5 separate regions of the Homo sapiens genome follow, and all the other regions are linked to region 3. The links come from fine-mapping of genetic effects on gene expression. A gene starts in region 3. Each other region holds a variant in brackets. All regions are shown on one strand. Distances are between the middles of the regions.

Region 1 (6,457 bases), 40 kb before region 3:
CTGGGTCTTGTGTGGCTGAGGCCCAGGACCCGCCAGGCCCCACCAGCCCCCAGGAGAGCCCCTTCCCCAACCCAGGCAGCCACCTGGGCCGGGCACACTGTGAGGCCAGCACAGGGCACAGAGAGCCCGAGACCACCAGGCCCCGCCCACCGCGTCCCTGCCCCGCCTCACCCAGCGTGGCTCCACCCAGCACTCTTGTCCCCCGGGACATCTGGAAGCTTCTCCTACCAGAAGCTAGCTCCAGCCATGGGAGGGGGACTGTCCCAGCCCAGCCCGAGGGGCCCAGTGCCCCACACACTTGGCCCTGTGGCCTCCCTGCCTCTGCCTCCAGGAGGTGCTCCCATGTTCAAATCCTGGGGGACCCCTGGCAAACCCCAGCCCCACAGCAGGTCCGGGGCCCACACAGTGCCCCAGGGAGGCTTGGCTGGTCCCTGCGTCCTGGAGCCTTGTGTCCCAGGGCCGGATCTCTGCTGTGCGGGGAGTCCCATCGTGCACCCCGAGCACACAGCCTGGACCCCTCTTCCTGGCCTGCACCCCTCTTCCTGGCTTGGGCCCCATCTGTGCTCCTCGTCCCACGTTCCTGACCCGGTCCCCCAGCCCCCAGCCTCGGCCTGGGACAAGGCTGTGATCTCTGGCCAGGTCCTCTGACCCACGGGCCCATTGGGTGGGGCTGCCCACATCCCCTATCTCTGCCTCATGCTGCCACCCTGTCCCTGGCAGCAGACGCAGGCACCCCCGGGACAGCTGCAGGCGGCTTATGGGCACCCCTTTGAAGCCAGGAGGGCCGGGCGGGGGCGGGTCACACCCGGGGGTGTTGGAGCCTGGGCAGCACTTTCAAGTTAGCCGGGCTTTACAGGGAAGCAGCTTATCACCACCAGGACAGGGCCAGGGAGGACCATGGGCCTGGCCCCGTGCCCACACCCTGCCCCGCCATGCTGAGCCTCCCCCGGGCACCACCATCTCGTACCCAAAGGGCCTGGCCTGGGGGCCGCCCTGAGGACACAGCCAGGTCCCCTCCGTTGACTCCTGGGCTGCAACCCCCACCACTACAACCCACACCACCAGCAGCCCAGGACAGAGCCAGGGACGGGTGCCCAGCCCTGTTCCCGTCCCCACAGCACGAGCTGCCCCATGACCTTCCTGTGGTGGCCAAGGGCATGGGACCTGGTCTTGCCCACGTGAAGGGTGACAGTGGAAGAGCCAGGAAGCCCCAGGTGCAGCCCCTCCCTGGGGAGACGGCTGCCACTCTGGGCTCCTCCCTTCTCCCTGGGCCCCCTCGGTCGCCCTGCCCCTCAGATTCCATGCCCCAGCCCCACCCCTGCAAGGGCATTGCCCAGAAGCCCGCTGGCCCCCAAGGAGCCTCCCGACGCGTGTGTGTCGGTCTCTTCCTGGGCCTGGAGCCCCCATGGTGCAATGGTGTGCAGGTGACCCGGGCAGGACAGGTGAGACGGGGCCCACAGAGCGGCACCCCCACCTCCCACAAGCCCCACCCGGCCCTTCGAGCCTCCTGGCCAGTGAGCCTGGGGTGAAGGGCTCCCCATCTTTCAGGTGCTTGGCCGGAGCAGACCACTGTCAGAAGCGCAGTCCTGCCCTCTGTCCTGCTGGCCACACTCACGCCCTGGGCGCCTCTGCCCGCCTCCTGCCTCAAGTCCTCGAAGCACACGGGGCCTCTGTGCTCCCAGGCCTCCTGCACGTGGAGGGGAGGGGAACGCAATTTTGTTCTTGGGAGTGTGGACGTGCAGATGTGACGAGGGAGCCGGCGCAGGGCACAGACGCGTGCTGCCGTGACGGAGATGCGGGAAACGGCATCGGGATGGCCGTGTGGCTGGTGGGGGGACAGGAGCCACGGGGACAGGAGTCCACGGGGCAGGGCCAGGCAAGAGACAGCCAGGAACACAGGCCAGGCGTCCACAGGGCAGGGCCCCGGCAGGCTCAGGCTGGAGACCGCCGAACAGAGGGGCGTGGGGGCGGGAGCAAGGCTCTCGGGACTGGACGGCCAAGGGGGAAGGGTCTGGAAGTCGCAGGGGAGAAAGCAGGGGCTCCAGGCAGCCCCTGAGGAAGGCTAGGGAAGGACTGAGGGGTCTGAGCTCCAGGCTATTGGCCCGGGGGTGGCTGGGGCCCCATAGGCAGGAGATGGGTCTGTCCTGACTCCTTGGGGTCCCCCTGCCCAGCCTGGCATCCAACGTGGCCACAGCATGACAAAGTCCAGAGCCCAAGACCCAGAGGCTAGGCTGTGCCAGACCTGTCCGTTGAGGACCACACAGCACTAGTCAGCACCTCCTGTGGGCAGGCGCAAGATGGGCTGGACCACAAGTCAAGGGTGGCCCTGAGTGGGGGCCTGGACCTCACAGCAGGCAGGGTGCAGGCGTGGGGTCTGCGGTCCCAGTGTCTCCTTCAGAGGCTCTAGGGGACAGCCCTCTCGGACTGCCCATCCCTCCGCCCACTCCCTGGGGAGGGGCAGCCTGTCCTCTGCAACCCCATGACCCGCTGCCTGAGGCCTCCCTGCTGCCCAAGGTGGCCAGACGCCTGAGGTCTCCCTTCCACCCTCCCCTACTCCAGACTGAAACCCGACCAGGCGTCGGCCTGCAGCCTGTCCTGTCTGGGGAACATCTGTTTGGCTGCCAGCTGTGGGCCGCGTGGAGCCCCCACTGTCCCCCAGTCAGGGTGGCCAGGCCTCCCACAGCACCCATCAGCCACACGCAGCCCTTACCAGGGCCATGCCTGAAGCTGTCACCGTCCAAGGAGTCAGGACTTCCTCAGGGGAGAGAAGTAGGGTCTACCCTGGGGAGGACAGAGAACAAAAAGGGGACATCTTGAAAGCCATGGGGTCCCCAGAAGCTCCAGTTGGGGAGAGGTCCCTGACACCTCTCCCCAGAGCCCACCTGTCGTCTTTGAAGCCAGGCAGGGTGAGCTTCCTCCAGGGAAAAGCTCTCAGAACCAGAGCGGGTCAGGAAGCGCGCTGCACGCCAGCAGGACCAGGCTCCGGGGACGCAGTGGGCCTCACGCTTTGCTGAATGCACGAGGGGCCCCGGTGCCTTTTCTTACGAGGCTAACGGAACCCCCGGCAGGCAAGGGCCCCGGGTGGAGCTGGCAGCCCCACCCCTCCTGCTGACCGGGTAAGATGGGGTCGGCCACCGTCGCAGCACCGCAGGGTGGCTGGGAGGGCACTCGGACGGAGCCCTGAGGTCAGAGGTGACCTGAGCCTGGCCCCATCCCCAGCTC[T/C]GAGGCCAGTCTGCTGCCTCCTGTAGGGCCACCCACCAAAGCCTGAGGAGGGGCTGGGGAGTGGCCAGGCCCTGCACTGAGGGCCATAGGTGCCAGCCCCAGGACACAGAGAGGGCGCCGCTGGGACAGGGGTGCAGGACGCAGGCCTGGCCAGGCATGTGGGCAGTGCTCACGCCCAACACCACCGAAGCCCAGTATACCCAAACTCTCCCGCCGGGAGGTGCAGTTCTCAGCCCCTGTGGCTCTGGCCCAGCGAGGGGACTCCAAGAGGGTTAGGCTGCTGGTTCTGGAGACCAGGCCTGACACACAGGCACAAATGTGAGCACACACGAGCATGCACACGTGCATGTAGACATGGGCAGAAACACCAGCCTGGAGGGAAAGGATGCACTTTCATGTTTAACAAAATAAATTAAATATACGGGGCTTCAGCTCAAACTCTACATAAAATTACAGAGATCTGGGGCCACCACGACAGTGGGGTGGGGGGTGGTGTCTGGCCTGGACGGGGTGTGGTCATCAGCATGGCTGAAAGACCAGGCGGGTCCCGGGCCCCAGGAGAGACCACAGTCCCTGCAACCCAGTCTTCCTTCCATCATTATTAATATTATCTTCATTTCTTAAATATAAATACCAAGGCCCCTTCTCTGTGTCAGGGGGAGAATGCAGTGGGGATGAGCCACTAGCCATGGGCTCCAGCCTCTCAGGCTTGGGGCTGCTGTGCCCCCAACCCCAGCCCACAGCAGTAGGGGACTCCTGGGCACCCAAGGCAGGTGGCAAAAATAGCCGCCAAGGCCAGGGGACAGAGGCGGGGATGGAGGCGGGGACTGAGGCGGGGACAGAGGCGGGCAGAGTTGGGGGAGTGACGGTGGAGCAGGGAAAGTCCCTCATCAACTATGAGCCTCACGGCACACGTACTGCAGGCTTCACGGCACACCCTCCCAAAAGCACGTCAGTCTGCGTGTGTCCAGGCAGCATATCTGCACCTGTGTGTGCATGTGTGTCCGGAAGTGTGTGCCCAGGCAGCATATCTGCATGTGTGCGTGCGTGTGTATCCGGACAGCATATCTGCACGTGTGTGCATGTCCAGACAGCATATCTGTGCACATGTGTGTGTCCAGGCAATATCTGCACGTGTGTGAGTGTTGAGGCAGCATTATCTGTGTGTGTGTCCAGGCAGCATATCTGCGTGCGTGTGTGTGTCCGGACAGCATATCTGTGCATGCGTGTGTGTGTCCGGACAGCATGTCTGCGTGTGTGTGTGACTAGACAGCATATCTGCGTGTGTCCAGGCAGCATATCTGCGCCTGTGCACGTGTGTCTGGAAGTGTGTGTCCAGGCAGCATATCTGCATGTGTGTGCGTGTCCAGACAGCATATCTGTGCACACGTGTGTGTGTGTGTGTCCAGGCAATATCCGTGCATGTGTGTGTCAAGGCAGCATTATCTGTGTGTCCAGGCAGCATATCTGTGCACGTGTGTGTCCGGATACCATATCTGCACGTGTGTGCGTCCAGACAGCATATCCGTGTGTGTGTGTGTGTCCAGGCAGCACATCTGCGCATGGGTGTGCGTGTGTATGTTCAGGCAGCATGTCCTTGTATGTTCTGGCATGTCTCTGTGCGTGTGCGTGCATTTGGGCAGCTTATCTGTGTGCCCAGGCGGCATATCTGTGCATGTGCGTGTGTGCGTACGTGTGCCTTCAGGGAGCACGTGTGCGCGCATGTGTGTGCATACATGCATCCAGGCAGTGTGTGTGTCTGTGTGTGTGTGTCCAGGGGCTATGCCTCACACACAGACTGCCTGGGGTGCTGGCCATTCCTCCTCGCCATGGGTCCCCTGCCTTCGTCTGCAGCTCCGTCCTCCATCCTCCCAGTCTGCCTGTCTGGCCGGCCCCCCCGTGCCCACTGCAGATACGGTGCCGTCTAGCACTGATAGTGGATGTGCTGGTGGACCTTGCCCTCCACGTGTGAGTGTGTGTGAGAGTGTGTGTGTGTGTGTGTGTGGATGTCTGTGTAGAGTTTGGGGTACAACTTAGGGCCAGCAACTGGGCCTGGGCCCAGTAAGTGCTGGGGGGCTGCCGGAGACCCATGCTCCTCACACAGCCCCACACCAGGGCCAGCGCTGAGGGCGGCCAACGAGGGAAGGTCCTTGTCTCCGCTGCGGTCGCGGGCCGTCCCCGGCGGGCGGTGCCCAGGCAGGGGAGGGGCAGGCGCGGGGGTGCACGGCTTCTTCTGGGCCTGGCAAAGCCACAGGAGCAGGGTGCCCAGGATGAAGACAGCGCCGGCTGGGATGCCGATGACCACGGGCCACGGCAGGCTAGTGGCCGAGGACGAGGAGGCCACAGGTGGCCCTGGCGGTTTTGGGTCTGCAAGAGCGAGAGGAAAGGAGGTAGGGAGGGGAACGCCGACACAAAGACCAGGAGAGCACCCCAGACCCATCCCAGGGGCTGTGGAGACGGTGCCCCTGGGCTGCCCTCCCTCGGCAGATGACCTGGCCAGCACGGCCCGGGAGGGAAGGGTGGGGCCCCACCCGGTGGGTGGGACGCCGGGCCCAGGGGGCGGGTCCGGGCACCAGCATGGTGTGGCGTGGCGTGGCAGCCGCGCACCTGGCAGCACGGTGAGGAAGGCGCTGCGGAAGCTGTAGCCCATGGTGTTGGCGCCAAGGCAGATGTACATGCCCGCATCGTCCTGGCGGGCACGGGTGATGAGCAGCTTATTGAGGTAGGAGCCGTCGGGCCGCGACCACACGTCACCCGTGGGCAGCACCACAAACTTCTGGCCGCCCACATCGATGGTGGAGTTGTGGCGGCCCTCGGCGCCGTACTCCACGCGCTTCAGCCACTGGATCACCGGCTTCACGTCGCTGCGCACCTTGCACTGGAAGGACGTGGTCCCCCCGAAGTCCACCGTCGTGTTCACGGGGTGCGTGCCTGTGAGCACGGGCTTGGAACGGGTCCGCTCTGTGGGAACGTGGCACGCGGGCATGGCTCCTGGGCCGCGCCGGACTCTACCCCGCCAGCACCCTGGGCCCACCAGCACCCCCAGCCCACCACCCCCAAGCCCTGCCAGTGCCCCCGCCCACCAGCGCCCCCGCCCACCAGCACCCCCGCCCGCCAGCGCCCCCGCCCACCAGCACCCCCCGCCCGCCAGCGCCCGGGGCCACACTCACGGATCACATCCACCTTGTAGGTGGCGTTGATGGCGCCCGCGCGGTTCGACACGCGGCAGGTGTAT
Region 2 (6,457 bases), 29 kb after region 3:
TCTCCCGCCCCAGGGCCAGGTCCAGGGTGGGCGTCCCCGGTCCCCGCTGAGCCCGGCTGGCCTCTCCCGCCCCAGGGCCAGGTCCAGGGTGGGCGTCCCTGGTCCCTGCTCGGCTGGCCTCTCCCGCCCCAGGGCCAGGTCAGCGGTGGGCGTCCCTGATCCCCGCTGAGCCCGGCTGGCCTCTCCCGCCCCAGGGCCAGGTCCAGGGTGGGCTGCGCTCCGGAATCCGGATTGCCCAGGGTTCCTACTTCCGAGTCACGCTCCTCAAGGCCACCCCGGTGCAGGTGGACGGGGAGCCCTGGGTCCAGGCCCCGGGGCACATGATCATCTCAGCTGCTGGCCCTAAGGTATGTGGGGTGAGGCTGGAGAGCCAGGGGAGGTGGGCCGGGCTGGGCCGGCCATGGGAGTGGCCAGTGGTACCCAGGTGGTGCTGGCATGGCCGGCTGCGGCCAGGGAGCACTGACTCCGGGAGGGTGCCTGCTTCAGAGGAGGGCTGTGCCAGTGGCCAGGCGGGCCACAGGTGGCACAGGGAGCAGCCAGACAGGTCCCTCCCCTTCCGTGAAATGGGGCTGAGATGGCATCAGCTGCCCGGGGCCCCAGGACCGGGGGCTGCCCGTGTACCGTTCTTTCATCGGCCATGTCACCCTGGTCCTCTGTCCCCTGCCCTGGGACAGGTGCACATGCTGAGGAAGGCCAAGCAGAAGCCGAGGAGGGCCGGGACCACCAGGGATGCCCGGGCGGATGCTGCGCCTGCCCCTGAGAGCGATCCTAGGTAGGGGTGGCTGGGGCAGCCCAAGGGCTCGAGCCATCTCTGCTCCCGCCAGCCTTGTTTTCAGGTGGTCTGGAGGCAGCTCCACGTCCACACAGTGGCCGGCCCTGTGGTCGGACCTGGCTACAGCCCTGACCACAGCATCTTCCCAGTGACGGAGCGGGACCCGCCCTCATCCCATTGGTGACACATGTTGGTGTCACAGCCCTCATCCCACTGGAGACTGGTGTGCGGGTGGCAGTGTTACCCCGTGTCCCGGGTGGGCGCAGGGCTCTGGATGGTGAGCCCTCTGCCCTGTGGGGGCCTGGTCCTCTCCTCAGGGGTGGGCACCCATCCCTCTCCCCACTGAGCCCCTTGAGCTGGACAGTGCTGGATGCAGGCCGTCCAGGTGGGTCTGATCTCACTTTGTGCCCCTCGGGCCGTCCCCCTGGCCAGTCCTTAAGAGCAGCAGGCTCCCTGGTGTGTCCCTGCCCCAGCAGACACAGGCTGCCAGTCCCTCCAGCCTCACCTCCCCGCCCTGGGCAGCAGGTGTGGGCAGCGTGTGAGGCTGCCGGGTGGTGGTGACTGGTGACTTCCTTGTGTTCAGGGAAGGGAGAAGGTGCCTTCCCTTGTTTTCTGGCCTTGTTATATACAGATGGCAGCTTGGATCTCAGGTACAGCTCCAGGGGCAGGCAGTGCCCAGCTGGACCTGGTGGCCCTTTCCTAGTGCCTCTGCTTGGGGAGGAGAACCTCTGTCCACGTGGAGGCTAGGAGGTCTCAGGTGCTGCCCTGGCAGCACCAGAGTGTGGGCCGGGCCCGAGTGTCTGCCCCTCGGCCCTCAGGGTGGGGCACTTAGCACCCAGAAGGGACCAAAAGCAGGGCATGGCGGTGCAGAGGAGTTTGGGAGGTGTAAACAGCCCATGCACGTGGAGGAGGAGCTGGCTTTCAGCCCCAGACCCCACGCTAGCACTTTCCACGCTGCTTGCCCGCTGTTGATGTGCAGTTCCCAGTGCCTGTGTGAGCCGACATCTGCTCAGTCCTATCCCTCGTCAGCGTGTGGAGACCCAGCTCCTGCAGCCCTCCTGCTCCCACGCCCCCAGACAGCTTGGTGGAGGGTCCTGCATCTGGGCCAGGCTGGGGTGCACCCAGCCAAAGACAAAGCTGCCTCCACGTGCCCAAGGATTCAGATGGTGCACTGGCCCCGGGAGGAGTCTGACCAAAAATGGAGCCCGCTCTGTGGGGAAGCCCCGACTCCCCCACGAGAAACGGTCCCACGGTGCGGATCTCCCCCTTCCCTTGTGGGGCACAGCTGGCCTGGGCCTCCAATCCTGCGGAGCTTTCCTGGGTGTGGCTTTGACCTCAGAAGTGGCTCTGGTTTGGCCTCAGGAGTGTGGCCTGGCCCAGCCTGCTGCAGCCTCCTGGGGGGCCCTTGATGCCACTAATCCCCCGACCCCCCGCATCTGCCAAACTGCACAGACACACGCATTGTAAGGCCGCTTGTGGCCTCCAGCGTGCACTCTTGTTTACGTCATTGTCATCTTCAAGACCAGTCCTTTGTGATTAGTTTTGCTTCGCGAGCCCTGGTGTGGACTGTGGTCTGTATGAATCGTGTGTAACTGTGGTGAGGGGCTTGTCCTGTATGTGAGTCTGTACCCAGGTGGGGTCTGTGCCCTGCACACCGGGCCCCTCTGTATTTATCGCTGCCTGAATGCAACAGTAATTTATATCCAGGACAAATACAGTCTGGGCGTCACTATCCTACCATCTCTTCCTCATCTTTGTGTCAACAACCGAGGGGAGGGGAGGGCCTGGCTTGGCACCCCCGACCCCACCAGCTCTGTATAGGCCTCAAAGGGGCTGGGAGTGGGCTGCCCCTCGGGTAGGTGAGCTTGGCAACGTGTCTTCAGGTTGGAGAGAGTGGATAGGCAAATGCCATAAAGCACATTTCCAGTTCCTGTGAAACTCCTCTCTCCGCAAAAAGTGGAGAACAATTTGAGGACTGAAATAAGAGCATGATATTTCACAATGAAAATAAAACCAGGCCACGCAAGAACCACTGCGGCCTGCCCGTGACTTGGCTTCCCCTGCCCAGCATCCTGTCCTCCCTGGTCCATCTCTGGTGAGGACGGCTGGGAGTGGGCTCTGTGGCTGCTAGCAGGGGGCAGGGAGGAGCTGGGACTGTGGGTCGTCCTGGCCCGTGGGGGCTGGCGGGGGGTGTTCGGGCCGGGCGAGGCCCCGCAGGACCCGCAGGGTGGCCAGGGCCAGGCCCACGAGCAGGCGCAGCAACAGGAAGGCGCAGGGCACGGCGATCTGCATGAGGTGGAAGATGCCCACACTGAACCTGCTCAGCAGGCAGGTGGAGGCGAAGGCCAGCAGGCTGGCACAGGGGTACAGCGCCAGCTTGGCGAACATGAGCACATGCTCCCGGCCGCCAAACCACACCGAGGGCTGCAGCGTCTCCGCCTGGTGCAGCAGCGCCGTGGTCCACATGGCCAGCTGGAAGATGCTGGCCAGGAAGATGATGGTGCAGCTGACACGCACGCGCTCCAGCTCATCGCGGGGCTGCCGGGCGAAGGCCGAGGTCTGCTGGTAGGCTAGTGGGAGGCCACCCACGAAGGCCAGCGAGAGCGTGTTCAGCAGCCCC[A/G]TGGCCCGCGTGGCCTTGCGCACATGCAGGAAGAGTGAGTGGTGGGCGAACCACAGCAGTCCCACTGTGGCGAAGGAGCCGAAGTACGCCAGGAAGCGCGGCCCGGTCGCACTCAGGGCGGCCACGAGGCTGCCGCTGAACCTCTCCTTCACATCCTTGGGGTCCGGGACGTTGTCTTCGCTGAGAACAGTGAATAGATGCATTTGTGCCGGCCTTGCCGTGGCCACACAGGCCCCAGCAGGGTGGCTGAGCGCCTGTCAGGGCTGCCTGGATCTGGCACGTTTTCAGATGAACCATGTGGACTTCCCAGTGTGCTAAATTTCAGAACGCCGTATTTATGTGTATTTGGCACACTGACTGTTACGTGCTGTTCATCTGAAATTCCATAGAAACTGGCACCCTTCTGCTCTGTGCTAATGGGAGCCCAACCCTGCTGGCCCAGAGTGCTGCTGGGGGCCCTGGGCTGCAGCCCTCTCTGGCCGAGGCTCTCCTGTGTTTGCTGGGCAGGACCAGCCTGCTGTGGGGCAGCGAGGTCTGTTCCCTCCCAGCTTCCAGCCCTCGGAGCCACCCACACAACACCCTGGCTGAAGATCTGCAGAGGGCTTGCCTCCACGGTTCTCAGATGCACATGGGGGTCTCAGGAGGCCAACTCCCTCCACAGGGAGGCTGTGGGAACCCCCTTGTCAGGGCTGCTGCCTTCTGACGGCACCACCCAGAAAGCCGGGAACAGTGTCGTCCTTCAACATCGGGAAGTGAAGGACAGTGGTCCTCATGCAGCCCCAGACAGACTTCTGTCCTCCAGAACAATACGCAGAGGGCGAGGGGTGAGGGGTGGGGGTTGGGGGCAGGAGACAGACTGGAGGCAGCAAGGGCAGGAAGTTGCTGGGAGGGGGCAGCTCCCCTGGCCATGGCTCCAGGTGGAGGAGAGGTCACTGTCCCGGCCCCACGCTGCTGCCTCTCTTCGGCAGGTCCCTCCCAAGGGGAGCCTCAGCTGGCCTGCACAATCAGGCAGCTCACCCTGGAGCATCCCTGGCACCTGGGCCTTAGAGATCAGATGCCAATGAACGTTTGCTTCCCGTTTTTAAAAATGCACACGACAGCAGAGAAGAGCATCAGGAGACTTGGACTCGAGAATATCAAGTACAGGATATAAAACCATAGTGTCTAACCCCAAGGTGGTCACAGTGCTGAACTATGACGAGGGAACAAGACACTCCAAAAGGATGGAAGATGTAAAAAAGCAAATTCAAACATTACGATGGCCGGGCACGGTGGCTTACACCTGTAATCCCAGCACTTTGGGAGGCCGAGGTGGGCAGATCACCTGAGGTCAGGAGTTCAAGACCAGCCTGGCCAACTTGGTGAAACCTCATCTCTATTAAAAATGCAAAAAGTTAGCTGGGCATGGTGGTGGGTGCTTGTAATCCCAACTACTTGGGAGGCTGAGGCAGGAGAATTGCTTGAACCTGGGAGGCGGAGGTTGCAGTGAGCTGAGCTTGAGCCACTATACTCCAGCCTGGGCGACACAGCAGGACTGTCTCAAAAAAAAAAAAAAAAAAACCCCACAAAAACCAAAAACGTGACGACTGAGACGAGACGCGCGCTCTAACAGACGAAGAGGCAGATGAGGCCGCGGAGGAGCAGACGCTGGAAGGAAGCAACAGCCAGCCAAAGGGAGCAGGAGGGGCTGCGAAGCGATGGGGGGCACTGGGAGGGAGCCGGAGGGAATGGGAGGGACTAGGGACTAGGAGGGGCTGGTGTTGGGGCAGGGGTGAGGCCTGGGGCAGGGGGATACCCATGGCTGCTGAGCCCCTCTGAGAGGAGTGAGGAGAGCAGTTGGCTGCTGGTGCTGACCTCACCCTGGCACCCCATCCTCGGCTGTGCTTGGGGTGGGAGCCGCTGGGAAGGGAGGGGCCGCTGGGAAGGGAGGGGCCGCCGGGAAGGTTGTCCTCCCTGAAGTGGGGGCTGCCCTGACCTCACACAAAACTCTAGGCATCCAGAGGAGGGTGGAGCCAAGACCCCTGTGCCTTTCTGGGGTTTCCAGGATGAGACGCCAGGGACTCAAGACACATTGGCCACCTGATAGCTGGGGCAGGTGACGCGGGGTCCTCACCAGATGTCCAGGATGAGAAGCGTGGCCACGATGGCGTAGACTCCGTCGCTGAAGGCTTCCACGCGCTCCTTGCTGAGTGGCTCGTGGAGGTCAAACGAGAAGACTTCCACTGGGTGAGCCGAGGGCTCCCTGTGGCCTGGGGACACGCCAGGAGGGTGGAGCTGGCCAAACCCCCCATGTGGAGGTAGAGCCCGCGTGGCTGTCACCGCCCTCATCCATGAAGAGGCCTGGAATGTGCAGGCCAGGAGAGGAGACAGGACAGGGACGCCCGAGGGGCGGAGTGGGGGAGCCCCAGCCACCACCACGCACACGGGCCTCGGCCCACGGACAGCCCTCAGTGCGGAGCAGCCGCACGGAGGTGGGCGGACTACAGGCCTCTCAGGCCAGCCCACCCAGTCATCACCTACCCAGGAGCCTGTCTCTGCACCAGCCGGTGACCTTGCTGACATAGGGGAGGAGGATGACAGTCACCATCAGCAGGTAAGACTGCAGGGAGACAAACCGCAGGTCAGTGCCCTCCACAGGGGTCCGAGGCCAGGCCTTACCCACACAAAGCTGTGTGCCAAAGCAGGGGCTGCGGCAGAAGGGAGGGTCTTTGCAGATCATGTATCTGATGGGGCCTAGTACCCAAAAAGTGTAAAGGATTCTTAAGCCAGCACAGTGGCTCATGCCTGTAATCCCAGCACTTTGTGGGGCTGAGGCAGGTGGATCGCTTGGGCCCAAGAGTTCGAGACCAGCCTGGGCAACATAGTAAGACTGTATCTCTACGAAAAATAAAAAATTAGTCAGGTGTGACTGTGTGTGCCTGTTGAACCTGGGAGACAGGAGTTGCAGTGAGAGGTGACCCAGCTCACTGCACTCCAGCCTGGGTGACAGAGCAAGACCGTGTCTTAAAATTTATCGTCTATCTCCCTATCTGAAATTCTTACAACTCAAAAATAAAAGGACGACC
Region 3 (5,903 bases):
CTGGCGGTGCTGCTAGCCGCGAAGGAGCTCTCAGACCGCTACCGACACCGCCTGAGGGTGCCGCTGCCCACGGAGCTGCTGGTCATCGTGGTGGCCACACTCGTGTCGCACTTCGGGCAGCTCCACAAGCGCTTTGGCTCGAGCGTGGCTGGCGACATCCCCACGGGTTTCATGCCCCCTCAGGTCCCAGAGCCCAGGCTGATGCAGCGTGTGGCTTTGGATGCCGTGGCCCTGGCCCTCGTGGCTGCCGCCTTCTCCATCTCGCTGGCGGAGATGTTCGCCCGCAGTCACGGCTACTCTGTGCGTGCCAACCAGGAGCTGCTGGCTGTGGGCTGCTGCAACGTGCTACCCGCCTTCCTCCACTGCTTCGCCACCAGCGCCGCCCTGGCCAAGAGCCTGGTGAAGACAGCCACTGGCTGCCGGACACAGCTGTCCAGCGTGGTCAGCGCCACCGTGGTGCTGCTGGTGCTGCTGGCGCTGGCACCGCTGTTCCACGACCTACAGCGAAGCGTGCTGGCCTGCGTCATCGTGGTCAGCCTGCGGGGGGCCCTGCGCAAGGTGTGGGACCTCCCGCGGCTGTGGCGGATGAGCCCGGCTGACGCGCTGGTCTGGGCAGGCACCGCGGCCACCTGTATGCTGGTCAGCACAGAGGCCGGGCTGCTGGCTGGCGTCATCCTCTCGCTGCTCAGCCTGGCCGGCCGCACCCAACGCCCACGCACCGCCCTGCTGGCCCGCATCGGGGACACGGCCTTCTACGAGGATGCCACAGAGTTCGAGGGCCTCGTCCCTGAGCCCGGCGTGCGGGTGTTCCGCTTTGGGGGGCCGCTGTACTATGCCAACAAGGACTTCTTCCTGCAGTCACTCTACAGCCTCACGGGGCTGGACGCAGGGTGCATGGCTGCCAGGAGGAAGGAGGGGGGCTCAGAGACGGGGGTCGGTGAGGGAGGCCCTGCCCAGGGCGAGGACCTGGGCCCGGTTAGCACCAGGGCTGCGCTGGTGCCCGCAGCGGCCGGCTTCCACACAGTGGTCATCGACTGCGCCCCGCTGCTGTTCCTAGACGCAGCCGGTGTGAGCACGCTGCAGGACCTGCGCCGAGACTACGGGGCCCTGGGCATCAGCCTGCTGCTAGCCTGCTGCAGCCCGCCTGTGAGAGACATTCTGAGCAGAGGAGGCTTCCTCGGGGAGGGCCCCGGGGACACGGCTGAGGAGGAGCAGCTGTTCCTCAGTGTGCACGATGCCGTGCAGACAGCACGAGCCCGCCACAGGGAGCTGGAGGCCACCGATGCCCATCTGTAGCAGGGCCAGGCCTGCCCAGCAGCCTCTGCTCCCTCCTGGGGACCCACAGCAGACGTCTGCAAGCCACTGCTGAGACCCTTCCCAGGGAGGAGCCACCCAAGAGCTGCACTCTTGTGCCACAGCTGCCCTGGGGAAACCGGGGAACCCCAACTGGGAAAGGAGGCCCTCTGATCACACGCAGGACCCAAACACTCAGAAATCAAGAACCTCTGCCTCCGAGACAGGCTGGCCCACAGTGCTGGCTGGGCCCCAATGCACCGTCCCTCAGCTCAGGAGGGATGGGCCTGACCTGACGCTCAGGGTTGACATCTTATTTGAACAAGGGTCCCCCGCCATCATGCAGCCTCCAAGGTGCCAAGAGGACTCCCTATGCCCAGGCCTGCCCGGTGCCCACCCTGCTGGTAGGAGCCAGCGGCTCTGGCCAAGTGCACGAGGGTCTCTGTGTTTCCAGAAGGCCCCACACACCCAAGTGCCCCTCACACCTCGTGCCTCCCCCTCACAGGGTGGCCACCTGCACCAGCGTCAGGGCCCAGGGTGCTGTGACCGATGAGACCTCAGCTCAGCCCTCAGGTGCAGTGGCCCTACCCAGCCTGGCCAGCAGACACACACAGGGATGCTCACGGGTGCACCAGGAGCCAGGTGCGGCGCAGCCAACCCTGAGCCTGCAGGGAGACCTGCAGGAAGCCCACCGTGCCCCATGCAGGGGCTCCCTCCAGCACACAGCCCTCACCCCAGCACAGCCAGCAAGGACACGCTCTCCCCAACAGGGTGCTTCGGCGGGAGGTGGGGGAACAAGGGGTCTTCCGAGCAGCCCCCAGCCCTCCCCTCCCATCTGTGCCTCTGTAAGGGGCTCTGGGACGCCCAGACCCTGCCCGCCGCCCACCTGGTGGTGACAAGCTCCAGCAGCCAGTGGGTCCGGACCTGCTTGATGCCGCGGTGAGGGACGGCGCCCACATAGGCGAGGTTGAGCTGCTGGTCCCAGCTGAGGACGTACTGGTCAGCCTGGCTGTGTGGCAGCGGGGGGCTGGGGACAACAAAGGGGCGGCTCAGTCCCGAGCCTCAGCATGGCTGGCAGCGCGGCTGACACACACGTTCAAGCCCAGGACTGCCCGGGCGCAGGATCCAGGCGCTGCCCGTGCGTTCAGTGACTAATAAAATGACCCTTAGGGCCAGGAATGTGGGGAGGTCCCATCTTCATGGGGAACGGCAGCAGCAGTAAGACGAGGGGCCAACGCCAGCCCTGGCCCTGGCCCTGCCAGGAAGGCGGGTACCTCAGCTCTAGGTGGAAGGAATGGGACAGGCAGGCCAGGTCCCGCTGCAGGGCCGTCCACTCCCAGGGGAGACTCCTGGTTTACCTCAAAGAGCAGGATCCCGGGCATCGGCCTGGGCTGCAGGGGGCGGCCCAGGCTCACGCCCCGGCGCCCACTCAGGTGGAGGACCCACCCACAAACACGGCGGGGGGCGGGCCCGGGAGAGCCAGGGCCCCAGAGGAGGGAGCTCCGGTCTCTGAAGCTCTCACAGTGCGCAGTCAGGGGGCGCCCGAGCTCTCCCCGTGCGGCCAGGGGGTCCCGGAGGCCGCGGAGCGCTCACCAGAAGCCTGTGCTCCTCCAGAAGCGCCGCAGGGGCCACAGCGCGCGGGCCGCGTCCACATGCACCAGGTGCGGGGCCTCGGCCGGGGCCACCGGGGGCGCGGCCAGGAGCGAGGCCAGGAGCGCCAGCAGCGCGGCGCGGGGGCGCAGGGGACGCATGGCCACGCGTGCTCGGGGACTGCGGGGCTTCGGGCTGCACTGCCGGTTCCGCCTCCGGGTCGGAGTCTGGGCGCGCACCCCATGTGACCGCCGCCGCGGGGCGGGGCCTTGGTGAGGGGGCGATGGCCGGGTGGGAGGGGTTGGGTGGCCTCGGGGAGCCTCGGGGAGCCGGGAGCACGGCAGGGCTTGGAGCCCCGCTTCCTTGCGGGCCTCAGGGGCTGCTCTGAGGACCGATGACTCGGAAAGCGCTCAGAAGAACGCTTCGCCCGTTGGTGCTATGTGAGTTGAGCCATTACTGTCTTGTTTTTCTCTGTTTTTGTGTGTTTTTGAGACAGAGTCTTGCTTTGTCGCCCAGGCTGAGGTGCAGTGGCGCGATCTCAGCTCACTGCAACCTCCATCTCCGGGGCTTCAGCGATTTTCTCACCCCAGCCTCCTGAGTAAAGCGTGCGCTTTAGCAGGAAGGAGAATTACCCCAGAAGAGCACACTGGGCCCTCCTTACACTTGGCTTCAGATCCATGGATTCAACCAAGCAGACTGAAAATATTGTTTTAAAGCCAAAGCAATACGAAATAATACATATTTTAAAACAATACAGTATAACAGCTATTTACAGAGCATTTACATTGTTTTAGGGACTATAAGTAATCTTGATTTAAACTACACAGTAGGATGTGCGTAGGTAATGTGCAAATACTGTGCCATTTTATATCAAGTACTTGAGCACCTGCAAATTTTGGTATCTGGGAGGGTCCTGGAACCAATACCCCGAGGATACCATGGGACAACTGTAGTACATGTGTAGTCCATGTATGCATGTGTGAATCCAAGCAAACATTGTATAAAAATAATAATGGAAAGAACAGGCTTGGTGCGGTGGCTCACACCTGCAATCCCAGCACTTTGGAATTGCAGGCCAACACGGGAGGATCACTTGAGGCCTGGAGTTTGAAATCGGCCTGGGAGATGTACCAAGACCCCATCTGTACAAAAAAAAAATTTAGCCAGATGCGATGGTATATGCCTGTGAGGCCCAGCTACCCACGAAATTGAGGTGGGAGATTGCTTGAGCTTAGGAGTTCAAGGCTGAGACGGGCCATGATCACACCACTACATTCCAGCCTGGTTGACAAAATGAGACCCCATCTCTAAAAAAAGAAAAGAAAAAAAGAACAGTCTACTAACAAAACGAAAATACTGGACAATAATCCTCTCTAAGTTGGGAGAAGGATAATTAGAGTTACAGTGTTCTGGGTCTTTTTATTTTGGGGAGAGGGGTTAAAATATTGCTTAACATTAGGTCTTCTTATGTTGAAATTGCATTAAAAGTGATTAGCCATTTAAAAGTGAAATAGTGTGTATATATTCCAAATTAGCAAGGAGGAAAAACATAATACAAAAAAATTCATTAAGAAACTAAAAAGTAAGAAAGGGAGGGAAAGGCGAGAGAAACCATGCAAGTACAGAACTGTCTCCAGGAACAGCGGGGTAAGACCCTCAGTCCAACGACCCCAGAGAAAACAACTAAAATGATGGATAACTCGCTTTAAAAACAATTCCTCAAAGCGTCAGAGAACTGAGAAAAACAGTAAGAAACCACCAGTCCCACACCGTGGTGCAGGACACAGCAATGGAAACTGAATTGTTTCAGACCAGCCGCCTCCTGAGAGCAACCATCAGAACTGGAGAGCGCTGAACGGAACCGTCCAGGGCACTGGGAGCTCTGAGGAGCCTCTGAGGCCTCGGGGCTCTGCAGGGACAAGCCGGGAGGGGGCGGGGCCCGCTTTGGGGCGGCGACTCCACACCCCTGCAGCGTATCCCAGCCACACAAGACATGGCGACACGCTGCTGCGTTCGTTCCTCACACTGTGGCCACAGGACAGAAGTCGAGGCTCAGGCGGGGGGCCTGGTAAAGACTTTGGGTTTTTCTTGGGACCCCAAAGTTCTATCCCCTAAAAGCAAAGGTAAACCAGCAACAGAATTGTCTTTGTGGGGACTGAAGCCAGCCTTAAATCACCTCAAGCCCTGAGAGAATTAAGGTGAGCCGCTCACCGGGACACCTGTGGACAGAAAAGTACACCTTCCCTGGAGGAAGGTAAAACAAAACAAAAACAGACAGAAGTCCTCACTGCACGGTGCTGGAATGGATCCGGGTCAGGAAAAATTATTACAAAGTGCATGATGGGGACATTCACAATTTGGAATATGCCTTGTACATTGTGCAACAAAATTCTACCAATGATAAACTCCAGAATTTTTTTTGTTTTTGTTTTTTGTTTTTTTAAACGAAGTCTCACTCTGTTGTCCAGGCTGGAGTGCAGTGGTGCGATCTCAGCTCATTGCAACCTCTGCCTCAGCCTCCTGAGTAGCTGGGATTACAGGCATGAGCCACCACGCCCAGCCAATTTTTGTATTTTCAGTAGAGACAGCGTTTTACCATCCTGGCCAGGCTGGTCTCGACCTCCTGACCTCGAATGATCCACCTGTCTCGGCCTCCCAAAGTGCTGGGATTATAGGCATGAGCCACCGCGCTGGGTCAAACTCCAGAATTATTAAACGACTCAATGATTGCATCACGGTTGTGAATGGAGATTTTTTGTTCATTTGTGATCCATGCTGAAGGGTTTAGAGGTGAAGAATCAATAGATTTGTAACCAAAGTTGCTCTGGAAATTAAAGCAAAACAATAAATTTAGATTACATACAGAGACTGAGATAAAAGCAAAGGTAGCAAAATATTAACAGTTGGTGAACCTGGGTGAAAACTATATACTGTTATTGCAACTTTTCTGTGAGTTTGAAATTTTTCAAAATGAAAACATTGAAAAAAATATTAAAACCTCATGAAACTTAGTAAAAATT
Region 4 (6,029 bases), 150 kb after region 3:
CTGACTTATAAAGAAATTTTGAAATATCAGAATAGGACTATATCAAATAAATGGAACTTATAATTAAAAACCTTCTCAAAACAACAACAACAAAGATTAAAAAACTCCAGACAGGTTTACTTTGAAATCTATCAAACTTTCAAGGAAATAGTAATACCAAATCTATACAAACTCATTCAGAGAACAGAGGAGGAAGACATACTTCCCAACTTAGTCTATGAAGTCAGCATTCTACTGATACCAAAACCAGACAAAGACATTACAAAGAAAGAAACCTACAGGCCAGTCCAGTGTCTCTCAGGAATGAACACAGATGCAAAAATGTTTAACAAAATGCAATCAAATTGGATTCAACAATATATAGAAGGTGGGGGGGGGATTGTATCCAGGAATGTAACATTCACTTAACGTTCAAAAATGAGTCAGTGGAAAATAGTGTTTTATCTGGGAACTGCAAAATTCATAACAAAATAAAATACATAAACACTGAATAAAATGAGTCAATGTAATTCACCACATTAACCGAATAAAGGAGAAAACTCATGAGGTCATCCCAATAGATACAGATAAAGCATTTTACAAAACTGAACTATTTGTGGTAAAAACCGCTATAGTTTGGATGTGGTTTGTGCTCACCAAAACTCATGTTGAAATTTGGTTCCCAGTGTGGTAGTGTCAGGAGGTGGGGCCTAGTGGGAGGTGTTTGGGTCATCGGGGCAGATCCCTTATAAATATATTAATGCCTTCCTAAAGGGTTGTTAAAAAGAGTCTACTGCAAGAGTCTTCCCCACCCCATCCATCTGTTTCTCTCTCCACTCTTGCCATGTGATCTCTGCACATGCTGGCTGCCCTTCTGCTTTTGGCCATGAGTGGAAGCAGCCTGAGGCCTTCACTAGATGAAGCTGCCCAATCGTGAATTTCTCAGCTGCCAAAATTGTGAGCCAAATTAACCTCTTTTCTTTACAAATTACCCAGCCTCTAGTCTTCTGTTATAACAACAGAAAACAAAGACCAAAACTCATAGCAGGCCAGGCACAATGGCTCATGCCTGTAATCCCAGCACTTGGAGAGGCTGAGGTGGGTGGTCACCCGAGGTCAGGAGTTCGAGACCATCCTGGCCAACATGGTGAAACCCTGTCTCTACTAAAAATACAAAAAATTAGCCGGGTGTGATGGTGAGCGCCTGTAATTCCAGCTACTCCAGAGGCTGAGGCAGGAGAATCACTTGAACCTGGGAGGTGGAGGTTGCAGTGAGCCGAGATCACAACATTGCTCTCCAGCCTGGGCAAGAAGAGTGAAATTCCATCTCAAACAAACAAACTCATAGCAAACTAAGGATAGAAGGGAATTTCCTTAACCCAAGGAAGGGCACCTCTGAAAAGCCTGCAGCTACCATCATACTTAATGGCAAAAGAATGAATGCTTCCCCTGAGAAAAAGGCAAGGATATCTATCTCATCATCTCTTCAGCATTGTACCAGAGGACTGATCCCAGCCAATAATAGGGGAAAGGCATAGAGAATGGAAAGGAAAAGGAAAACTGTTTTTAGACACGTACACGATGACTAGGCTTGTTTAGAAAATCCTGAGGAACCTACAAAATATATAACTAGAACTACTAAGCAAGCATAGCAAGCTTGCAGGATACAAAGGCAATATCAAAAATCAATTTTGTGGAAAACAAGGTAAATATCTTAAAATGAAGTCAATAAGAAAAAAGAAAAAATCATTTTTGTGCCTATGTAATAGTAGTGAAAAGTTGGAAATAGAAATAAAAAATACCACTTACAATAACATCACAACCATGAAACACTTTCAGATAATTTTCATGAATATCTGCAAAACCTATTTACTCATAAAATTATTGCTGCAAAAATAAAAATAAAAATCCTGCAAATTTTGTTAAATTTTTTTTTTTTGAGACCAAGTCTTGCTCTGTCCCAGGCTGGAGTGCAGTGGCGAGATCTCAGCTCAGTGCAACCTCCCCCTCCCAGGTTCAAGCAATTCTGCTGCCTCAGCCTCCTGAGTAGCTGGGATTACAGGTGCCTGCCACCATGCCTGGCTAATTTTTGTATGTTTAGTAGAGACGGGATTTCATCATGTTGGCCAGGCTGGTCTCGAACTCCTGGCCTTAGGTGATCTCCCCTCCTCGGCCTCCCAAAGTGCTGGGATTACAGGCTTGAGCCACAAAGCCTGGCCAGTTTTGTTGAAATTTAAATAGAACTAAATAAATGAAGGGGCATACCATGTTCATGGATTAGAAGACTCATATTAAGAAGTCAATTCTCCCCAAACCAATCTATGCATTCAATGCAATCCCAGATTCCATCAGACCTTTCCATAGAAACCAACCAGCTGATTCTAAAATGTATATGGAAATGCAGCAAACCTAGAAAAGCAGAAAGCATTTTGAAAAAGGACAAAGTTGAAGTAC[T/G]TAACTACCTGCTTCCAGGACCCGCTGTAAAGCTACAGCAGGGAAGATGTGGTGCTATTGCATAAGGATAATACACAGATCAATGGAAAAAACAGAGTCTAGAAATAGACCTACATAGCCATGGTCCATTGATTTTTGACAGGAGTCCCAAAGAAGTCAATGGGGGAAAGAAAAGCTTTTCCAACAAAGAGTACTGGAATTGGACACCCACAGAAAGAAAGGAAAAGCCCTTACCTCATAGTATACAGTCCCCACCCATTGGTTTCCACCCCCATCTGACTGTCCTCTCAGCCTCAGAGTGGGCCCCACCCAGCCATCCTAGTCATCCTGCCTCGGTTCCAGGTTCACCCTTCTCTTATCCCTGTAGCAGAAGGTCAGGTGGGGAGGAGGTGGTCGGGGGGGCTTCCTGGAGGAGGATGAGAAGGGCTTGGATGAAGGAAGGAGCAGCATGCTCAGGGCAAAGGCACAGAGGAGAGATTCAGGGTGGGGGTCACTTCTGAACCCAGCCCAGACACTCCTTTCTGGGGTTCAGTGTGGGCAGGGGGCTGCATTCCCAGGTCCACAGGGTGCAATGGTGCCTGGAGGAGGGGGAGTCAGGAGTAGTGGGCCACATGGCTCTATTCCCATGCTCTCCTCCCTGACAAGGACAGACAATGCCTCCCTGACAATGGCACTTATCAGTCTGTAGGTAACTTGAGCTGGGAATGTGGGCAAAATAGTTGGTGGCTGAACTACAGCTTGTTCATGACACAATGGCTGCAGGGGCCACATGCCACCCTGAGCTGGCGGGTTCATGGGGTCACAGTCATTGCTGTCCTCTGCCCTCTGCCTGTCCCCTTCAGGTGGCTGGGCCTTCCTGGTCCCCTCCTTGGCTGCGGTGGAGGCCGAGGACAGCCAGGACCCAGGGGAAGACACAGTTCTGTGGTGGCCAGGCCTGTGGGCACCAGGAGCAGAGGGAAGGGAGGATGGCTGGGGCCAGGGGTCTGGGAGCAGAGGGACGCTCAGCCACCTGCTGCGGTGGGCGGCTGATGGGCTGTGCGAGAGACACTGGTGTGGGCAGAGGACTCGGGAAACTGCAGCCTCCCAAGCGGGTCGGGAGCTGGCCCAGCCCCGGGAGGCCCCTCTGCCGGGGAACGAAGCCAAGGCCTGAGAGTGACGCAGCCTCCCAAGGCCACGCTGCCGGCGAGGGGCCAGGCCTGTCCTTCCCGAGTGCAGCACCACTTCTGGGACACACACGTGGTTCTCAGTGCTAGGGGCCGGAGCAGCCCCCGCCGGCCTGGCCAGGACTGAGTGCAGGAAGGGGCTGCCCCAGGCAGTGTGCTGGGAGGGACCTGGGGCCCTCACGGCTCGCAGCTGCCACCAGAGCTGCCCCCATTTTTTTTTCTTTTAATGCTTAAAGAATGCAGCTTTATTCATGTCCATTGGGGCAGCTCAAAACGTAGTTGATAAATCTATTCAAATTTATTTTCCTAGTAGAAGCCCTGAAGGGGTTGTTTGCTGTTTGTTGAAATGAAATCCACGTAACATAAAGCGGACTGTTTCGAAGTGTACGATTCAGCGGCGGTTAAGCGCATTCATGCTGCCATGCAGCCACCGTCGCCGCTCTCTGGCTCCAGAGCGTTCCTGTCACCTCTCAAGGAGACGCCATCCCAGTCCCCCGCATGCTCCCCAGCCTCAGCAGCTGCAGTCGCATTTCTGTCTCTGCGGATTTGCCTGTCCGGACGTTCCCTATAAACAGAAGCGTGCACCTCGAGGCCTTTGTGTCCGGCTTCTCTCACTGACATGCCGTCTTCAAGGCTTGTCCACGCCACGGCCTGTGCCACAGCCTCATTCCTCTTGAAGCGGAATCAAGGTCCACGTGTGGCGGGACCACAGTTTGCGTGTCTGTGCTCTGCCGATGGCGCTGGGCGGCCTCCCCCGTGGCTGCCTCCCCCGTGGCTGCTGTGGCTTGTGCTGTGGTGGACGCCGTGTGCAAGTCTTTGTTCTAGTCTGGGATGCACTGGACATGGGGCACCGGGCCCCACGGCAGTCAGTCCAGCTTATGAGGATGCAGGTGCCCTGCGGACACAGCGCCTCCGCGCTGGACACCGACACGGGCCGGCAGGTTCAGATGAGCTTCTGTCCCCGTGTGCTCGTTCTTGCTGCCGCGCTGGCTGACACAAAGTGCAGGACACGTCAAGGGAAGCAAAGGCACTCTTTCCTCGGGGAGCTCCACTCCTGAGGACGCAGTCCGGGTGTCTGAGCCCAGAGGCCACTGGGAGAGGAGTGGGAGCTGCCAAAGCTGTCTTGGCCCCTGAATGTCCTGAGGGGCCCCCGGTGATGTGAGCTGGGGACTCTCAGCCCAAGGATGCCGCGTGCGGCCGTGGCCTGAAGGGCTCCGCGGGGCACGCTGCGGCCCTGCCTTGTCTACCTCTGGCCTCTCGGCAACTTCCTGGCAGTGGCACAGCCGGGGCTGGGGAGTCATTTGCTGTTGGGACCCGGCCTGTGAACAGCAGGAGGGCTGCCGAGCTCTCAGGCAGGTTTGGAATTCTCTTATCAGCCGGCCTGGTTGGACTGCGGCCAGAAATCAGGCGGCTGTGGCACTTCCGAGCCTTCTCCTTGTGCCCTCCGCACCCAGCTGCACCCGCTAGGTGCCGGCCACACCTGCCCTCAGTGCCTGCAAGGCATCTGCTGGTTCTGCAGCTGTGGCAGCCCTCTCTGCTCCGTCCCCCTCGGCTTCCTGCCTCAAACACCATCTTCTCAGAAACAGACCACGCCCGACTGCCACTGCAGCAGGATGACCCGAGCCGGGGGCTGAGGACTCCACGTCCCCCCAGAAGCCCCAGGTGGCAGCAGACCCCGACTGTCCTACCGCAGGCGAGCTGCAGTGGGTGCCTGGTTGGGGCGGGGTCAGAGCTGTCCTGGGTGGGAATCGATGGGAGAGAAGGGTGGGGTGTGGCTGGACTGCCCTGGACAGTGGCTGTGGCTGCTGGAGCCCAGGGGGTGTCCAGACCCACAGCCCGGCCTGCACAGGGGTCAGGGCTGGGGCGTCGGCAGGGCCCTGCCTGCCTCCTTGGGACCTCAGGAGAGGGCAGCCCACCCCACTCCAGGGAACCACAAGAAGCCACTCTGGGGTCTCTGGTCTGCAACCCGGGGCCTCTCCTGGGCGGTGTCCAGGGCACGGCAGACCCCACCACTGGACTTCCCGCCCCTGGCTCTGCCTGCCTCTCGCTTGCTCTGCAGAGCCCCCAGGGGCCCCTTTGCACTTTCAGCCTTGGCTCCAGCACTTTCTACCCAAGACCCTGGTCTCTCTGTGTCCCATCTGTCCCCTCACCCACAGCGTTCCTCAGCCCTGCCGTCTCTGGCCCCTGCCGGGTATTCTGACCTCCCAGACACAAGCCCCAAAGCCATCCCAGCACCACAGCCACAAGCCCAGGGGACGCTTCCGTGACCTTCCTCTGTTCTAGGGAAGGAGTGGAGGGGTGGCAAGGGGAGTCCCACCCAGGCCTCACCCGGGGGGCCGCATCCACGCCGCATCCAGGCAGGTCCCACGCTGTGACCACTCCTGCCCCGGGCTGTCTCGTGCTGGCACGTCCAATGTGCGTGGCTCAGCCAAC
Region 5 (6,457 bases), 63 kb after region 3:
GTGAGCCGGGAGGGGTGCGGGGCAGTGCGGAGCGCAGGTGAGCCGGGAGGGGTGTGGGGCAGTGCGGACTGCAGGTGAGCGGGGAGGGGTGCGGGGCAGTGCGGACTGCAGGTGAGCGGGAAGGGGTGCGGGGCAGTGCGGAGCGCAGGTGAGCGGGGAGGGGTGCGGGGCAGTGCGGAGCGCTGGTGAGCCGGGAGGGGTGCGGGGCAGTGCGGAGCGCAGGTGAGCGGGGAGGGGTGCGGGGCAGTGCGGAGCGCTGGTGAGCCGGGAGGGGTGCGGGGCAGTGCGGAGCGCAGGTGAGCGGGGTGGGGGGGGTTGCGGGGCAGTGCGGAGCGCAGGTGAGCTGGGAGGGGTGCGGGGCAGTGCGGAGCGCAGGTAAGCAGGGTCTCTGGGGCTTGGTTAGTTGGTTCTAGGTCATCAGGCCTGTGAGGCCCAGATTCTGCCACAGAGTAGCTGCCCCCTGGCGGCTCTCCTGGTACCAACCGCCTTCACTTCCAAGTTGACAGCTTGATCATCAACATTTGTCCACTTTGGCTAGTTCCCAGCGTGAAGTAAAAATGGTCAGAACCACCACAGCAACCCTTAGGGGCTCTTCGTATTTGCCGAGCATGGTCAGTAGTACTTTATGTGGATTGTGTGGTCCTCACAGTAGCCCTGGAAAGTGGGTACTATAATTACTTCCATCTCGCAGAAGAGAAAAGTGACGTTTGCAGAGATTAGTTGCTTGCCAGAGGTCGAGTGGTGGAGTGGGGGCTGGGAGCCCCAGGGAGGTGTCCTTAGGGCCCCTGTCCTGGCCCCCGTTGCTCTGCGCATTGTGCCCTGGAGGAGATGTCTGAGCATATAAGGTAGTAGAGGCTGTTGGGGCGGAGAGTGACAGGCCAACACCACTTCATGCTCAGCTGCGGCTGACCCTTGGCAGGAACAAGCCTGTGTTACTTCTGTGGTTTCTGTCTGTTAACATACAGGGAGGTCACTCTTGGGGAGGACCCCATGGGTGGGCTCACCATTGGGGGAGGTCACTGTCGAGGGAGGACCCCCTGGGGTGAATTAGACGTTCGGGGAGGTCACTGTCCAGGGAGGACCCCCTGGGGTGAATTAGACGTTTGGGGAGGTCACTGTCGGGGGAGGACCCCCTTGGGGTGAATTAGACGTTCGGGGAGGTCACTGTTGGGGACGACCCCCGGGTGGGCTCACCACTGGGGGAGGTGACAGTTGGGCTGGGCCACTCCCCTTTCCTCCTCCTCCACTCCGTGGACTCCTGGTGAATTGCTCATGGTTGTCTGTGTGGGTGCGCATCCCCGTGTCCCAGTCCGTCTGTGCTGCTGTAACAGAACGTCGTACACTGGGGGCCTATAAACCACAGACGTTTGTTTATTCCTCACGGCTCTGCAGGCTGGAAGTCCAGGCGCAAGGCGCCGGCAGATCTGGTGTCTGGTGAGGTCCAGCACCTTCTCGCTGTGTCCTCACAGGGCAGAAGGGGTGAGGGAGTGCTCTCTGGGGCAGTAATCCCAGTCCTGAGGGCTCCACCTTCATGGCCTAGTCACCCCCAAGGAGGCCCCACCTCCTAACACCATCACCTTGGGTATTAGGATTTCACACAGGAATTTTGGAGGGGACACAGATTCATTCTGTAGTGTTGTGAATTATGTGTGTATTGAAAATGTTGGTATGTGGTATTTTACGTTAGAAAAGTGTCTGTTTCTTAAAAGAGGCCGAGTTGATTAAAAAAGATACTCAGATCTGCCTGTAGTGGTCCTGTACTGACCTCACTGTCCCCCGGCACTCTGTCCCGTCCCCAGCGTGCTCCGTGCATCCTACACGCATCCTGGTGAGAGGTGTCCTCAGCCCTTTGCATGGACGCTGGTGGGCTGTGTGGGGGAAGGTTGCCCAGCTCTGCTCATGGGGCCTGCAGGCTGCTCGGGGGCACCAGACTCTAGTGTCCCAAGTCCTCAGAGTGTCCCCTGGGGGTTTGTTTTATTTGGACATTTTGATGGGTTTAAAAAGTGTCAAGCTTTGATTTGTGCCTTTCTGAGTAGCGAGTTTGGTAATGCTTATTTGCTGCTCAGCCTCCCCTTCTGGCATTGCACATTCATATCCTGTGCCTGTTATTTTTTTATTCTTATTTTTTTGAGATAGAGTCTTGTTGTGTTGCCCAGGCTGTAGTACAGGGGTGTGATCTCAGATCCTGGCAACCTCCTCCTGAGAGCAGCCCCCGGGCAGAACTCCACCCCCATGACCCAATCAGATCTCACAGGAGAGCACTCACTATCCTGAGAGCAGCCCCTGGGGGAACTCCACCACCACAACCCAATCAGATCTCACAGGAGAGCACTCACTATCCTGAGAGCAGCCCCCCGGGGGAACTCCACCCCCACGACCCAATCAGATCTCACAGGAGAGCACTCACTATCCTGAGAGCAGCCCCGGGAGGAACTCCACACCCATGGCCCAGTCAGATCTCACTATCCTGAGAGCAGCCACGCCATGGGGAACTCCGCCCCATAATCCGGTCACCTCCCACCAGGCCCCTCCTCCAACATTGAGGGTCACAAGTGAACATGAGATTTGCATGGGGACGCAGATCCAAACCGTATGTGCTGTTATGAATAAAGATCCAAACCGTGTCCGCTGTTATGAATAAAGATCCAAACCGTATCCGCTGTTATGAATAAAGGTGCCGAGAACATTTTTTTTCAAGTCTTTTTGTGGACGTGTGTTTTTCTTTGTCTTGGGTAAAAAATACCAAGGAGTAGGATTGCTGATTTACAGGTTGGATTTAGGTTGAACTTCACATGAAACAACCAAACCTCCTTCCACGGTAGCTGCACCATTTTACATTTCCACCAGCTGCAGTGGAGAGTTCCTGGCTCTCCACTTCCTCACCAGCATTTCTTGTGGTCTCTCATTTTGATTACATCCATTCTTGTGAGTGTGCAGTGGTGTCGATCTCATTGTGATTTCATTGGAATTTCCCTGATGATGATGTTCAGCAATTTTTTTTTTTTTTTTTTTTT[G/TG]AGAGGGAGTCTTGCCCAGGCTGGAGTGCAGTGGCTCCATCTTGGCTCACGGCAAGCTCCACCTCCCAGGTTCAAACAATTCTCCTGCCTCAGCCTCCCAACTAGCTGGGATTAAAGGCATGCACCACCATGCCCAGCTAATTTTGTATTTTTTAGTAGAAATGGGGTGTCACTATGTTGGTCAGGCTGGTCTCAAACTCCTGACCTCAGGTCACCCGCCGGCCTTGGCCTCCCAAAGTGCTGGGATTACAGGCATGAGCCACGGCGCCTGGCCTTTTTGTCCATTTTTTATTGGGCAGGGAGTTTCTGCTTACTCTGGATACAGGTCTTATGTTTATATATTTATATAATTTATGTGAGAAAGAGAAGGCAAGCCTTAGCTGTGGTCACTCTGCTGTCCCAGGCCAGGCTGCCTCAGGGAACCTGGGCCTTGAGATTTGACCTGGCTTGAGCATTTGATGTCTCTGTGCCTCCACTCCCCACCCCTCCACTCCCTGCCCTTGAGATGAGGTCTTGCTTTGTTGCCCAGGCTGGAGTGCAGTGGCATGATCACAGCTCACCACAGTCTTGAACTCCCGGACTCAAGCGATCCTCCCACCTCAGCCTCCCAGGTAGCTGGGACCACAGGCACGCACCACCACGCCTGGCTAATTTTTAATTTATTTCTGGTAGAGATGGAGTCTTGTTATGTTGCCTGTAGGCTGTTCTCAGAACTCCTGGGCTCAAGTGATTCTCCCACCTCGGCCTCCCAAAGTGCTGGGATTGCAGGTGTCAGCCACTGTGCCTGGCCTGTGCCTGTTCCTTAATTGGCAGAGTGTGTGCTGTAAAATGTATATAACAGGGTCTTGGAGGTACCCGACATGCCATTCTTTAATGTCTTATACGTTACTATTATTTTTAAATAAACTGTATTATTTTGAGTTCATTGTAGGTTCCCACGCGGCTGTGAGAAAAGATGGAGATCTTTTCTATTTTAGACCCTTGCCTGGTTTCCCCAGTGGTGACGGTCGGGATGCTAACCCTGGTGCAGGTGAGGCTGTGGAAGTCTCCATCCCCGTAGGGAGCCCTCATGCCACCTCTCAGCCACGCCATTTCCTTACCCTCTGGAAACCTCTAGTCTTTGCTCTGTCTGTGATTTTGTCATTCGAAGGATGCAGTGTAAGGGGAAGTGCAGAATTCTTCAGGTAATTGTGTGTCAGTAGCTTGTTTCCCGTGGTGAGACTCCTCTGCGTGAGTGTGCACGGCTTGCCCAGCCAGCCACCCGTGGAAGGACATCTGGGCTGTTTCCTGTTTTGGCTACTACAGATAAAGCTGCTGTGACACTTGCGTATAGGTTTTTGTGTGAATATACGTTTTCATTTCTGGGATAAATGTTTAAGAGTGCAGTTGCTGGTTCATGTGTGGTAATTATGTGTTTAGTTTGTTAGAAAACTGCCAGATTGTTTTCTTGAGTGGCCATACATTCCCACCAGCAATGTAGGAGCGTATCAGCCTGGTTAGGCTGCCATAACAAAATACTCCAGACTGAGTGGGGAGCAGTAGAAATTCACTCTCGCAGTTCTGGAGGCTTGAAGGCCAAGAGCAAGATGCTGTCAGTGCTGATTCCAGGAGAGGCCTCTTTTGCTGGTTTGCAGATGCTGCCTTTTTTTTTTTTTTTTTTTTGAGATGGAGTCTCGCTCTGTCACCCAGACTGGAGTGCAGTGGCGCAATCTCAGCTCACTGCAACCTCTGCCTCCTGGGTTCAAGCAGTTCTCTTGCCTCAGTTTCCTGAGTAGCTGGGACTACAGGCGCCCACCACCATGCGCCGCTGATTTTTGTATTTTTAGTAGAGACGGGGTTTCACCATGTTTCCCAGGTTGGTCTCAAACTCACGACCTCAAGTGATCTGCCCGCCTCGGCCTCCGAAAGTGCTGGGATCACAGGCCTGAGCCACCGCGCCCGGCCGATGCTGCCTTTTTGCTGAGGGGATGCTGACATCTCTGGTGTGTCTTCATCTTATAAGGACACCAGTCCTATTGGATTAGGGCCCCACTCGTATGAACTTATTTATCCTTCATTACTTGAGGGCCCGTCTCCGCATAGGGTCATCTGGGGCTTCCGCAGATGCATTTTGGGGGCACACAGTTGAGTCCCTAACAGCGAGTTTCTCTTTGTACTCACCAGCATTTGGCGTCGTGGTTTTTACTGTGATCATTGTGATACATGTGTAGCGATACCTCCTTGTGGTTTTGATTTGCATTTTCCCGATAGCTTGGGAGTGCTTCTTTGCCATCTGCATATCTTCAGGGGTGAAATGTCTGTTCATGTCTTTTGCCCACTTCCTAATTATGTTTTTTTGACCAAGTTTTGAGTGTTCTTTATTGTAGATTTAAGTCCTTCGTAGACATGGGGTTTTCAAGTATCTGTTCCTAGTCTGCAGCTTGTCCTTTCGTCCCCTAAACAGGATCTTTTTGGACGCAAACTCAGACCAGTTAATTAAAAAAAAAAAACAAACAAAGCGGGGTCTGTTGCAGATCCAAAGTTTTTCATTGTGAAGTCTGATTTATTTTTCCTTTTACGAATCACGCCTTGTCACAGCTAAGGATTCTTAGCTCTTTATCTTGAAGATTTGTCTCCTGTGTTTTTCTGAAAGTTTTAAACCTTCACAGTTGCAGATTTATGTCCGTGTTTATTTTGGTGAATTACTGTATGTGGCTGGCATTTACATGAAGCTCATTGTCTGGCACCATTTGTGGATCTTCCATGGAGTTGCTTCTGTGCCTCCCTCAGAAATCATCTCGATGGGCTGGGCGTGGTAGCCCAGGCCTGTAATCCCAGCACTTTGGGAGGCCAAGGCACCTGAAGCCAGGAGTTCGAGACCAACCTGGGCAACATAGTGAAACCCCGTCTCTACTAAAAATACAAAAATTAGCCGGGCGTGGTGACGCACGTCTGTAGTCCCAGCTACTGGGGAGACTGAGGCAGGAGAATCGCTTGAACCTGGGAGGCGGAGGCTACAGTCAACTGAGATTGTGCCACTGCACTCCAGCCTGGGTGACAGAGCGAGACTCCGTCTCAAAAAAAAAAGAAAAAGAAGAAGAAATCACCTGGATTGATTTGTGTGGCTGTTTCTGCGATTTTCTTTCCATTCCAGTCATCTTTGTATCTGTCCCTCTGCCAATACCACATAGCCTTGATTAATTTAGCTGTGTAGTAAGTCCTGAGATCAAGTCCAGATATTACTATCTTTAAAAATTATGAAATATTTTAAAATGCAGAAAAATACAGTAACATAACGAACACCTATGTCCTACTATCCAGAATAAACGTTAACCTTTTAACAAAATAGTATCTGGGGCCGGGCATGGTGGCTCACACCTGTAATCCCAGCACTTTGGGAGGCCGAGGCAGGGGGATCATGAGGTCAGGAGATCGAGACCATCCTGGCCAACATGGTGAAACCC

What was found.
Region 1: its variant is fine-mapped to the expression of IDUA in breast (GTEx, PIP 0.96).
Region 2: its variant is fine-mapped to the expression of IDUA in whole blood (INTERVAL, PIP 0.94).
Region 4: its variant is fine-mapped to the expression of IDUA in whole blood (TOPMed, PIP above 0.99). The same link has a PIP of 0.9 or more in T cells.
Region 5: its variant is fine-mapped to the expression of IDUA in whole blood (INTERVAL, PIP above 0.99).

What each region holds. Positions count from the first base shown.
Region 1 is chr4:1,024,037-1,030,493 of GRCh38, reverse strand. FGFRL1 (fibroblast growth factor receptor like 1) reads right to left here. Exons shown (of 7, transcript NM_001004356.3): 5 at 6,393-6,457; 6 at 5,830-6,183; 7 at 3,596-5,589. The coding sequence ends at 5,147. Among named protein-coding and RNA genes, the nearest start is that of FGFRL1, 16 kb to the right of the region's middle. RefSeq lists enhancers at 3,748-4,247, 4,248-4,749. The variant T/C (reference allele first, on the strand shown) is at 3,223.
Region 2 is chr4:954,939-961,395 of GRCh38, reverse strand. TMEM175 (transmembrane protein 175) reads right to left here. Exons shown (of 11, transcript NM_032326.4): 9 at 5,913-5,991; 10 at 5,506-5,641; 11 at 2,740-3,572. The coding sequence ends at 2,900. It overlaps DGKQ (diacylglycerol kinase theta), which reads left to right. Exons shown (of 23, transcript NM_001347.4): 22 at 195-347; 23 at 675-2,509. The coding sequence ends at 776. Among named protein-coding and RNA genes, the nearest start is that of DGKQ, 15 kb to the left of the region's middle. The variant A/G (reference allele first, on the strand shown) is at 3,393.
Region 3 is chr4:984,226-990,128 of GRCh38, reverse strand. It overlaps IDUA (alpha-L-iduronidase), which reads right to left and starts at 3,085. Exons shown (of 14, transcript NM_000203.5): 1 at 2,887-3,085; 2 at 2,180-2,320. The coding sequence starts at 3,044. SLC26A1 (solute carrier family 26 member 1) reads left to right here. Exons shown (of 3, transcript NM_022042.4): 3 at 1-2,472. The coding sequence ends at 1,296. RefSeq lists enhancers at 1-356, 357-858, 3,439-3,498, 4,674-4,723 and silencers at 2,619-2,796, 2,579-3,228.
Region 4 is chr4:834,469-840,497 of GRCh38, reverse strand. It overlaps LOC105374340 (a long non-coding RNA gene), which reads left to right. Exons shown (of 4, transcript XR_925033.3): 4 at 1-488. Among named protein-coding and RNA genes, the nearest start is that of CPLX1, 11 kb to the right of the region's middle. The variant T/G (reference allele first, on the strand shown) is at 2,434.
Region 5 is chr4:920,734-927,190 of GRCh38, reverse strand. All of the region lies in intron 1 of GAK (cyclin G associated kinase), which reads left to right. Among named protein-coding and RNA genes, the nearest start is that of GAK, 8.4 kb to the left of the region's middle. RefSeq lists an enhancer at 5,313-5,422. The variant G/TG (reference allele first, on the strand shown) is at 3,015.